Regions from separate parts of the Homo sapiens genome. Here region 2 is linked to region 1. The links come from fine-mapping of genetic effects on gene expression. A gene starts in region 1. The other region holds a variant in brackets. All regions are shown on one strand. Distances are from middle to middle.

Region 1 (5,373 bases):
GAGCTAGTGATACAATCAGGATTTGACCTCAGATTTGCCTGTCTCCAAAGCTACATCACCGAACTCAGAAAGGAGCTAGTCCTTCCCCCATGAGCTTTGGAGACAGTTGTCCAAGCGCAGTTGGTTCAAGTGATCCTCAGCCCAACACACACACACACACACACACACACACACACACACACACACACACACACACACATAGTGTGTGTCTCTGTGACTGCCATGTTCTTAAGAAAGCTTGGATGGCCAGGTGCACACACACACACACACACACAATGTGTGTGTGTCTGTGTGACTTCCATGTTCTTAAGAAAGCTTGGATGGCCGGGTGCAGTGGCTCACGCCTGTAATCCCAGCACTTTGGGAGGCCAAGGTGGGCAGATCACCTGAGCTCAGGAGTTTGAGACCAGCCTGGCCAACATGGTGAAACCCCATCTCTACTAAAAAATACAAAAATTAGCTGGGCGTGGTAGCATGAGCCTGTAATCCCAGCTACCCAGGAGGCTGAGGCAGGAGAATCACTGGAACCTGGGAGGCAGAGGCTGCAGTGAGCCAAGATCGCGCCACTGTACTCCAGCCTGGGCAACAGACCAAGACTCCGTCTCAAAAAAAAAGAAAGCTTGGGGGCCGGGCGCAGTGGCTCACACTGTAATCCCAGCCAAGGTGAGTGGATCACTTGAGGTCAGGAGTTCTGAGACGAGCCTGGCCTACATGGTAAAACCCCATCTCTACTAAAAATACAAAAATTAGCCGGGCATGGTGGTGCATGCCTGTAATCCAAGCTACTTGGGAGGATGAGGCAGGACAATCACTTGAACCTGGGAGGTGGAGATTGCAGTGACCAGAGAGCCGAGATTGTGCCACTGCACACTCCAGCCTGGGTGGCAGAGTGAGACTATGTCTCAAAAAAAAAAAAAAAAAGCAAGCTTGGGGCTGTGGCAGTGGTCAGAGACCCTCTGGTAGGTGGCTGGTTGCACCCAGAGACACTGCAGTCCAGAGATACTGCAGTCCAGAGGTGTGTGTGAGGGTAGTTTGCTTCCTCTGCACCCCTCTGGCTGCCTCCCTGGCTCTCTTCCTTGCCCCTTCCGTGCAATAGTTCCCTGTTGAATAGCAACTACCTAGCCCAGGTGTTCAGGACCCAATTTCAGAATCCATCCCACTATTCTCAGGAGCACTTCTGTTCTTGCCTGACCATTCTTGACTGTTTTGGGCTCTGGAAGTGTGATGCCCCCATGGTTGGCCCCACTTCTCTGCTGTTTTCCTCTCATGTTTTGCTGCCAGCTGCCTGGGAGGGGTGGCTGTATCCCTGTCCCACATCAGAAACTGATCCTCAGGACTTGAAGGCCCAGAAGTGGAGAGAGAATGAGACCTGGAGACAAAGGGCATAATTGTTGGGGAAATGGATGACAGCTGAAGCTATTCATATGGAGCCATATACTCTATTGTTGAAATAGAATAAGGAAATAAAATGATACACTCACATACCTGCGCGAGCTCTCCAAAAACACTGTACTACCTTGTCTACCAGGAGCTGGTTTCTCAGCCAGTTGGATAAGGGATTGTTTCAGCAAGGAGACTGATGGCCTCCTCAGGGAAGGAGGGACGGGACAGGATTTGTTCTTGTAACAGCATTCAAGGAGTCAGCTGGGTGCCTCAGCTGTACTCAGAGAACACCAGTCAGGCCATCCTGGGGCTGGCAGGGCAGAGAAAGGCCTAGGGGTTGGGGCTGCTGCGATTCAACAGCTCCCAGAGGCACTTGACCTGCTCCCTCGCCTCACGTGGAGGTGGATAGAGGTAAACTTTCCAGGCAAGGAGGGTCAAATTCTCAGCTTTCCTATCAGAACGAAACTGTCCCAGCCTCAGCCCTTGTCTGGCTAAAGTAGGTCACCTCTGTCCCTTCCCGTACAGCCGTCATCAGAACTGGTGTTTATGCACCCTCGTGGGTAGATCCTGGGAATGCATGTCCAGCTTGGTCCCCGGCATGAGGTCTGCGCTCGACAGTGCCTGCCCTGCGCCTGTTCTGGGGAGCTCAGCCCAGACCGGGCCTCCAGCTCCCTTCCCGCCCGGCAGGGGCCCCGGGCCCGGAGATGGCCACGCCACGCTGCCTTCTCGGGTCTGACTGTCCTGATCCTGCGCAAAAGTGGGGCTGCACTCGGCCTAACGAACGGACGAGGAAGCCCCCGCCGCACTTGGCTTATTAGTTGGTGGACCGGAGGGGCAAGGAGGGGATGCCCGAATCCTGCACTGAGTCTCTGAGGTCCTTAAAGAAGAACAAAAGTGCTAGTCACCGCCCACTAAACTCACGTTGCGATCTAAAGTTTAAAAACTCGGCCACAGACGACGACACAGTTTCAGGGAGGGCGCGCAGAAGGTCGCCCGGCCGACAGGAGCTGGGACCCCAGTTTGCTGATTCACGCCTTAAATTGGGCACAGACCCCACCCACAGATTTAACTTCCTCCAACACAAGCTAAATCCAGGGCCACGTACCCAGGGCCCGCAGGAGGGACAGGACGAGGATGGTGCCCACAGCGCGCTGGAGGCACGCCAGAGCCTGGAGGGGCAGGCAGGGGCGGTGGAGCGGGGCCGGAAGTGAGGCTAGCGGAGCCCCGCAGTGGCGGCTCGCGCTCATTGGCCGGGAGCAGCGCGGTGGGCGGGACGGAGCTCGGCGGTCTGCGCTCGGTTGCTAGCCGTTTGCTCCCGCTTTCAGTTGCTTTGCTGTTAGCCTGTTGGACCTTCGAGCCTAGCTGCTCGCACAGGACTCGGCCACCTGCCCTTCCTGCACCGACTGGCCAGGTAGGTGGCTGTAGGGGCCGCGGGCTGCAGGTTCCCGGGAAGGATAATGAGAGAACCGAGGGCCTCGAACCGGCTGCAGGTGGTGGGGAGGGAGTTTCGTGGACCTGGACGCCTCTGTTCCTTGAGAAGGCTCGCTCCCTCCTCCGGGAGCTCCGAAGGCTCGGGGTCAACCACCTGGGCCCCCGACCCCGGTAGCTGGCTCAAGGCCCGCCACTACCTGGTACCTCTGCAGGAGTTCAGAGCCTCATGCTGAGCCAGGAGGAGCTCCGGGTGACGCATACGGCAGGATCGGGATTGAGAGGCTGAAAAAGTGAGTTTAACAGTAGAGAAAGCAGGACCTGTCCCGCAGGCTGCTGTTCTGGCTTTTCTTTCCCACTACCTGCTTCAGTCATTGCCAGCTGTCTGGTATTCTCCTTGGCCCCTAAAGTTTTGCCCTAGCCTGGTTCTGGTTCCCTTGAGTTTGGAGCAGGAGGTGGAATGTGGAGGGTCCTGGGTGAACTTGGACTATTCCTTCTCTAGGTTTCACTTATCTCGTCTGCTTGGGGGTAGGGGGTTCTCCGGATGATCTCTGCAGCCCCTCACTGTCTGTAACTGAGCATCTCTCCCCTGGGGCAGGTGTCCTGGTAGTTCAGTAGCCAGCTCTGATCTCAGGTAGCCTGTGCTCATTTACAAAGAGTCAGAAGACAGAGCACTGGACTTAGAGCCAAACAGACACTTGGTTCAGCCTGGGAATAGCTGTGTGACTTTGGGCAGTCACCTCATTTTTCTGTGCCTTGATTTCACATTGGTAACATTGGGGAGTTGTAATCTGAGTGTGAGACCTCTCCTGACCACTTTATGTAATCTTGTACCTGACCGACACCCTCTCATCCCTCTGTGCTTATTTTACAAGTTTATTGATCAACTCTTATCCCTACTAGAGACAAGTACCATGAGTGCAGAGATTTTTGCTTATTTATTGCTGTATTCCCGCCTCTAGAACAGTGCCTAGAGTGTGGTAGGTACTGTCAACCTAAATAGCAGAGTGAGAGACTCTAAAAAAATGATGTTTACTTGGGAATAGACATTGTAGTGACAATATGTGTGCCATAGTAACCTGTGTACGTATTTGGGGAGGTAAAGGAAGACAAAGGTTTTGAAAAGGAAAAATGAGGATTACATGATTATTTTGAGATAGTTATCCTTGGCTACAAGGATGAATAGCAAGAGTGGTGCTAGTCTGAGGTTGGACAGGCAGTTGCAGGGCAGATGTCCTCACAGAAAGATTTTTCTGTGTAAGTTTGCAGTGGCCTTTGTGCAGGGTTGTGGTTTTTGCATTTTTTGTGATCTTGTTATCAGTCATTTGTGCATAAGAACCCTCTTTTCACAACCTTCCTCGGTTTTATTTGTCAGAGTTGTTGTTCTTGTTTTTTCCCATTGGAGAATCATGCTTTAAATTTGTCAGAGTTTTTAACACAAACGACTCTGTTTTGATTCTAACAACTTTCATATTTCCCCCTTTTGGTCAAGATCTTTCTCCAAAAACTTTACTGATCAGTCATCCTGTAGTTAGGTCCCTCAGTGCTGGGACGGACCTATCTTGGGTTGTTGGTCTCTTGCCATGTTGGAGACTAGGAGTCTCCAGTTGGAGACTGGTGACTAGGAGTCAGTGTCAAAACCCTTGTAGTGGTTGGGAGCAGGGGCTCACGTCTGTAATCCCAGTACTTTGGGAGGTCAAGGAGGGAGTATCACTTGAGTCCAGAAGTTCAAGACCAGCCTGGGCAACCGCCAAGGCGGGCGGATCACCTGAGGTTGAGAGTTCGAGACCAGCCTGACCAACATGAAGAAACCCGTCTCTACTAAAATACAAAAATATATATAAATAACATCCGGGCGCGGTGGCTCACACCTGTAATCCCAGCGCTTTGGGAGGCCGAGGCAGGCGGATCATGAGGTGAGGAGATCGAGACCATCCTGGCTAACACGGTGAAACCCCATCTCAACTAAAAATACAAAAAATTAGCCGGGCGTGGTGGCAGGTGCCTGTAGTCCCAGCTACTTGGGAGGCTGAGGCAGGAGAATGGCGTGAACCCAGGAGGCAGAGCTTGCAGTGAACCGAGATCGCACCACTGCACTCCAGCCTGGGCGACAGAGCAAGACTCTGTCTCAAAAAAATAAAAAATAAAAAAATAAAAAATAAATAAAATAAAATACAAAAATTAGCCGGGCGTGGTGGCACATGCCTGTAATCCCAGCTACTAGGGAGGCTGAGGCAGGAGAATCGCTTGAACCTGGGAAGTGGAGGTTGCGGTGAGCCGAGATCGCACCATTGCACTCCAGCCTGGGCAACAAGAGCGAAACTCCGTCTCAAAAAAAAAAAGTTATCTGGGCATTGGTTGGGGAGTGTGCGGGAGTCAGTTGGGTAGAGGATCACTTAAGCCCAGGAGTTTCAGGTTATAGGGAGCTATGATTGTACCGCTGCACTCCAGCGTGGGTGACAGAGCGAGACCCTGCCTCAAAAAACCCCAAATACCTTTTAGCCACATTTGAGCAGCAAGGGAGGTTTGGAAGGAGTGGCTCTCAAGGTATGTCTACCTGGA
Region 2 (5,373 bases), 27 kb before region 1:
AACTGAGAGATGTGTGCCTCTCTTCCCCCCAGGGGATGACACTATGAAATGCAGATCTTAGTCACCATCCCCTCTCACCTCCCTGTCATCTCTCAAGCAGATTCTGCTGACACAGGTTTAATGTTAAAGGAAGCCCATGGGGCATGTAGATGGACATTTCTGATGGCAGAGGGACTCCTCCTCTTTTTTGCCATGACTTACATGATAATATTATATGTACATTACTTGCTCAGGCATACCTAGAATTGTCAGATGCCCCAGTACTTTTTTTTCTGGAGACACAGTCTCACACTGTTGCCCAGGGTGCAGTGCCGTGGCATGATCTGGGCTCACTGCAACCTCCACCTCCCGGGTTCACGCAATTCTCCTGCCTCAGCCTCCCGAGTAGCTGGGACTACAGGTGCACGCCACCACACCCAACTAATTTTTTACTTTTTTTTTTAAGAGATGGGGTTTCACCAGGTTGCCCAGGCTGTCAATACTTTTTGGTGAAGTACGTTACTGAAATTCCCATCAGGAATTAGATGGGCTAATTAGATTAGATAAGGTAAACTGCCTAGTGGCTGGCTTTAACTCCACTTTTTTTCCTTCCACTCAAGAAGGCAAATTGAACAACAAATTAGATACCAAGGAGAGTAGCAGGGGACAGAACTAAGATACTAGGTTTTCTTCACCAGATGAAATATTCGGGGTCAGTTCTTCACACATAGTAGGTACTTATAAATTATGACCCATTGAATTATGGGTCTAGACCAATCTAAGTCTGTCCAGGGATAGTAGTGACAATACAGTCATGCATTGCTTAATGATGGGGATACATTTTTAGAAACACAGTGTTAGGTGATTTTGTCATACCAACATCATGGAGTATACTTACAGACATCTAGATGGTCTAGCCTACTACACACCTAGGTATATGGGATGACCTGTTACTCCTAGGCTACAAACCTGTACAGCATGTTACTGTACTGAATATTGTAGACAAATGTAACACAGTGACATTTGTATATCTAAACATAGAAAAGATACAGCATGACTATATCTTATTTATTTTTATTTTTTTTCTTTTTTCTTGCTCTGTTGCCCAGGCTAGAGTGCAGTGGCAGGATCATGGCTCACTGCAGCGTCAATCTTCTGGGCTCAAGTGATCCTCCTGCCTTAGCCTCCCAAGTAACTAGAATTGGCTGGGCGTGGCAGCTCATGCCTATAATCCCAGTACTTTGGGAGGCCGAGCCAGGTGAATCACCTGAGGTCAGGAGTTCAAGACCAAGTAGCTGGAACTACAAGCATGTGCTACTGTGTCTGGCTAATTTTTATATTTTTTGTAGAGACAGTGTTTTATCATGTTGCCCAAGCTGGTCTCAAATTCCTGGGCTCCAGCGATCCTCCCACCATGGCCTCCCAAAGTGTTGGGATTATAGGCATAAACGACTGTACCTGCCATTTTTTCTTTTTAAATACATGAAACATAGGCTTAGAGAGATTTGCCCATGGTCACAAGAGTTGGAAATCAAAATATTAAAACCCAGATTTGACTCCCTATCTATCAGTTGTTCTGTCTGAGGCTCTCTTTTTACTCAGTCTGTTTATTCTTCCTGGGTTATCTCATTCACACCCATGGCTTTGTTTGCCTCCTGGCTGTATGGTGATGACTCAAATCCCTGCACCACCCCTGACCTCTCTCCTGAGCTCATACCCATGAAGTCAACCATCTATTTGACATTTCTGCCTAAAATGGAGCTCATTATCTCCTCTCCCAAATTCCCTTTCTCAGCCTGGGTCTTCCTAGAATGGAGAGGTCCCTCACTAACTGAAGGCTGTGCTAGGCCACTAACTTCACAGGATGTAAATATTAAAAGAAGCAAACCAAACAGAAATTGAATCTCAGGAGACCAAATACTTAGAGTCTACATCCCAGGGAAGCTGGAGTGGATGCCCCACCATTTATCCTGGTGACCCAGTCCTTGTCCTTGAATGTGCACCATCCTTATCACCTCTCCTTTCTGGAGGTGGTGGAGGTCAGGGCAGAGAGGAGTCTTGTGTTTCACTTGGCATAGAGCTTAACAGAAAGGAGCTGCCTTCAAGATGAGTTGTTGCATAGAGGACTAGGAAGATAGAGGCTAATCTGAACTTCAGTTTTCTCCCACAGAAAATGGAGAAAACATGAGGGTAGATGAGATAGTATGTAGGAACACTCTTGGTTTGCTTCACATAGTGGGCTGTCATTCACTAATCATTGACTGCCTCTGAACCAGATAAAGTTCATCTCAGAGAAGCTAATTGAATTGCCCAAGGTCATATAGTTAATAAGGGTCATGGCTATGACTAGAGCCCAAAGTGAGTAAGTTTTTCACTAACTTAGATCCTAGAGACATCAATGG[TAA/T]AAAAAAAAAAAAAAAAAAAGAACAGCAAGGAGGCCGGGCGCGGTGGCTCACGCCTGTAATCCCAGCGCTTTGGGAGGCTGAGGCGGGTGGGTCACAAGGTCAGGAGTTCGAGACCAGCCTGGTCAACATGGTGAAACCCTGTCTCTACTAAAAATACAAAAAATTAGCCGGGCATGGTGGCACGTGCCTGTAGTCCCAGCCACTCAGGAGGCTGAGACAGAAGAATCGCTTGAACCCAGGAGGCGGAGGTTGCAGTGAGCCAAGATCGAGCCACTGCACTCCAGCCTGGGCGACAGAGCTAGACTTCGTCTCAAAAACACAAAACAAAACAAAAGAACAGCAAGGAACAACTTTATTGTCTGTTCATATATATAATTCTTACCATTTCTCCCCAGCTTCTAGCCAGAGGAAGGAAAAAGAGTCTAAAAATTTTGTGTTGATACCAATTTCTGTTTTTTATATGGGTAATTAACAGCTGAAAACAAAGCTGTTAATTGCCACTCTTATCAATGGGTGGTCTTTCATGTAGGTTTTTTAGATGTGAAGGGACAATGACATCACAGAAACTCTGTTTGTTTCCTCTTTGGCCAAGTTACGCTGGTCTGTCAAGACCCAGAGAGTTCTGGACAGCAGAGACTACAGATTGGGTCATAGTTTTGCCCAGAGCCTTCCCACTGATCCATATGGTGGGGTCCTCACGTTCCTCTTCCTCCAGCATTCACCATAGCCACACAAAGCTGAGTAGCCCCTTCCTTTTATACCTTTAACATTCATTAACTCAGACTTCTGAGGGACCACCTCTGTGGCAGTGGGGCAGTGATGTGTTGGTGAAGGCACAAGACCAGGAAACTGGTTTGACTCTGGGATCTATGACCTTGGGCAAATCATGCCCCTCCCTTCCCGTCGGGCTTCAGCCTCATACTCTGTAAAGTAAAGGTATTGGAAAAAATTATCTAGATTCTCTCTAGCCCTCCCATTCTGTGACCTTTTTCTTTTCAGAGATGTTTTCTGAGTCTCTACAAGGTGACAAAGATGAAGTAGACCTCATCCCTTCCCTTCATTAACTCACAGTGCAGTTTAATTTACAACTTTATTACTTTCTTGATATGCAAACTGATTAACCTGCCCCAGTTTTCTCATTTGAAAAATTGGGGTGACACCTATATGGAAGAGTTATTGTAGAGGTATAAATAATGTATAAACAAATATACAGCTACTGTATAAACACAACATAGTACCTGACATTATTAGGCCCTGAGTGGTTGTTATTGATATATAGTTGTTTTTCCAGCAACTGCGGAGGTTTCTGAGAGCCAAACTTAGACATCCCTGTGACCCCATCCCTCTCCTTCTGCCCAGTGATCAGCACACCTGGGTTTGTCTGGCCAGATGCATTGTAGCCATATCTCTCTGTGTGTCAGTAGCTGTCCTCCCTGGAGAGGGAGTCTGTGTGACCTTGGATTCATAACCCTCAGTCCTAACTGGCCCAGCGCATTAGCCTGTCCAAAGGAATTGGCTTCTTTGAGCTAGCAGGTGCCAGGAGCTATCAGTAGGGTAGCCTCTGGTGCAGCTTTCTGACTGGCTTTGTCTTTAACATATACTCACTAAAATAACTCTGAAAGCAAAATAAAAAGCATCTTCCCATCTTCCGAGCCTAAGACCTTTATAGCTTGGGGCAGAGATAACCAGATGCCTTGGTAGAGAACGGGCCTGACCTGGTCCTCACTTGCCTTTCTGTGCACTGAATCTGTCCTAATTTATCCTCTGCCTGCCCAGTGACATCATTTCTCTTTCCTTCTTCTCTTCTTTAAGGCACACTCAGGTTCCCTGTCTTGAAAACAACCTCTTGACCCTAATCCTACCATTTGCAGGAGGGAGGCATCCTGGAAAATAGAGCTTTGGGCTTGGAGTTAGGAGACTTGCATTCAAATTCTGTCTGTGCCACTGGCTTATATGACCTTTAGCAAGTCATGTAATCTCTCTGAGCCTGTTTTCTCCTGTTTAGGATGGATTTAATAGGATGGACCTATTCTTTTTTTTTTTTTTTTTGAGACAGAGTTTTGCTCTGTCACCCAGTCTAGAGTGCAGTAGTGCGATCTCGGCTCACTGCAAGCCCCGCCTCCCGGGTTCATGCCATCCTCCTGTCTCAGCCTCCGGAGTAGCTGGGACTACAGGCACTTGCCACCACGCCCAGCTAATTTTTTTGTATTTTTAGTAAAGACGGGGTTTCACCGTGTTAGCCAGGATGGTCTCAATCTCCTGACCTCGTGATCCACCCGCCTTGGCCTCCCAAAGTGCTGGGATTACATGCGTGAGCCACCATGCACGGCCTAGGATGGACCTATTCTAAGGGATGGTTTTGAGGCGTCAGTGCACCTAGAAGAGCCTTTGGTACATAATAGGTGCTGAGTAAGTGACAGATTACCCAGTTTTTGTGACATCATAATTATGGGCCCTTTTCCTGCCCCTCTATTCCTCATTGTCACTTTTCCCCAACTGCAGTACCCTCTGATCTCTGGCTTTCTTCTCTCCTGCTCAGGACCTCATCTATTCCAGCCCAGTGGACACAGCTCACAAGGTACTGATTAGCCTGAGGACCTTCCTGAGGAGGAATGAGGATATCCAAGTGGGCGGTCTTATCCGAGGCCACTTCCTGCTGATCCTGCAGCGTCTGCTAGTGGAGCATGGGGCATCCCCATCAGGAGGTCAGTCTGCAGGTGCTGTGGGCACACTTTGACCTGAAAGCCAGTCGAGAATGGGCATCTCTACCCTTGTTAGGTCTGCTCCAGGAGAGAGAATCAGGGTTTTATCTGAAAAAGAAAGCCAGGCCATTGTGGCATCAAGCTAAACTTCACCTCCTTTCTCTCACTGCAGAGTGGGCGTACAACATGCTTGGTTTGCTGTGTGTGTGTTTAACATGAGTGGATGTGTTTGATGTGTGCATGCATATCCCCACCCTGTGCAGCATGTGCTCAGTGTTGTTTGTCAC

Direction of the effects. Positions count from the first base shown, and alleles are read on the strand shown. Sizes are in standard deviations (SD) of each study's normalised expression.
As copies of T replace TAA in region 2, the expression in monocytes of the gene that starts at base 2,707 in region 1 goes up (small effect, 0.38 SD a copy in Quach 2016).

What was found.
Region 2: its variant is fine-mapped to the expression of CCDC134 in monocytes (Quach 2016, PIP 0.95).

Annotation. Positions count from the first base shown.
Region 1 is chr22:41,797,973-41,803,345 of GRCh38, forward strand. It overlaps CCDC134 (coiled-coil domain containing 134), which reads left to right and starts at 2,707. Exons shown (of 7, transcript NM_024821.5): 1 at 2,707-2,794. MEI1 (meiotic double-stranded break formation protein 1) reads left to right here. Exons shown (of 31, transcript NM_152513.4): 31 at 1,282-1,482. The coding sequence ends at 1,327. RefSeq lists enhancers at 1,528-2,514, 2,290-2,369, 2,440-2,519 and silencers at 1,990-2,079, 2,670-2,729.
Region 2 is chr22:41,771,179-41,776,551 of GRCh38, forward strand. MEI1 (meiotic double-stranded break formation protein 1) reads left to right here. Exons shown (of 31, transcript NM_152513.4): 21 at 4,924-5,089. Among named protein-coding and RNA genes, the nearest start is that of CCDC134, 27 kb to the right of the region's middle. The variant TAA/T (reference allele first, on the strand shown) is at 2,382.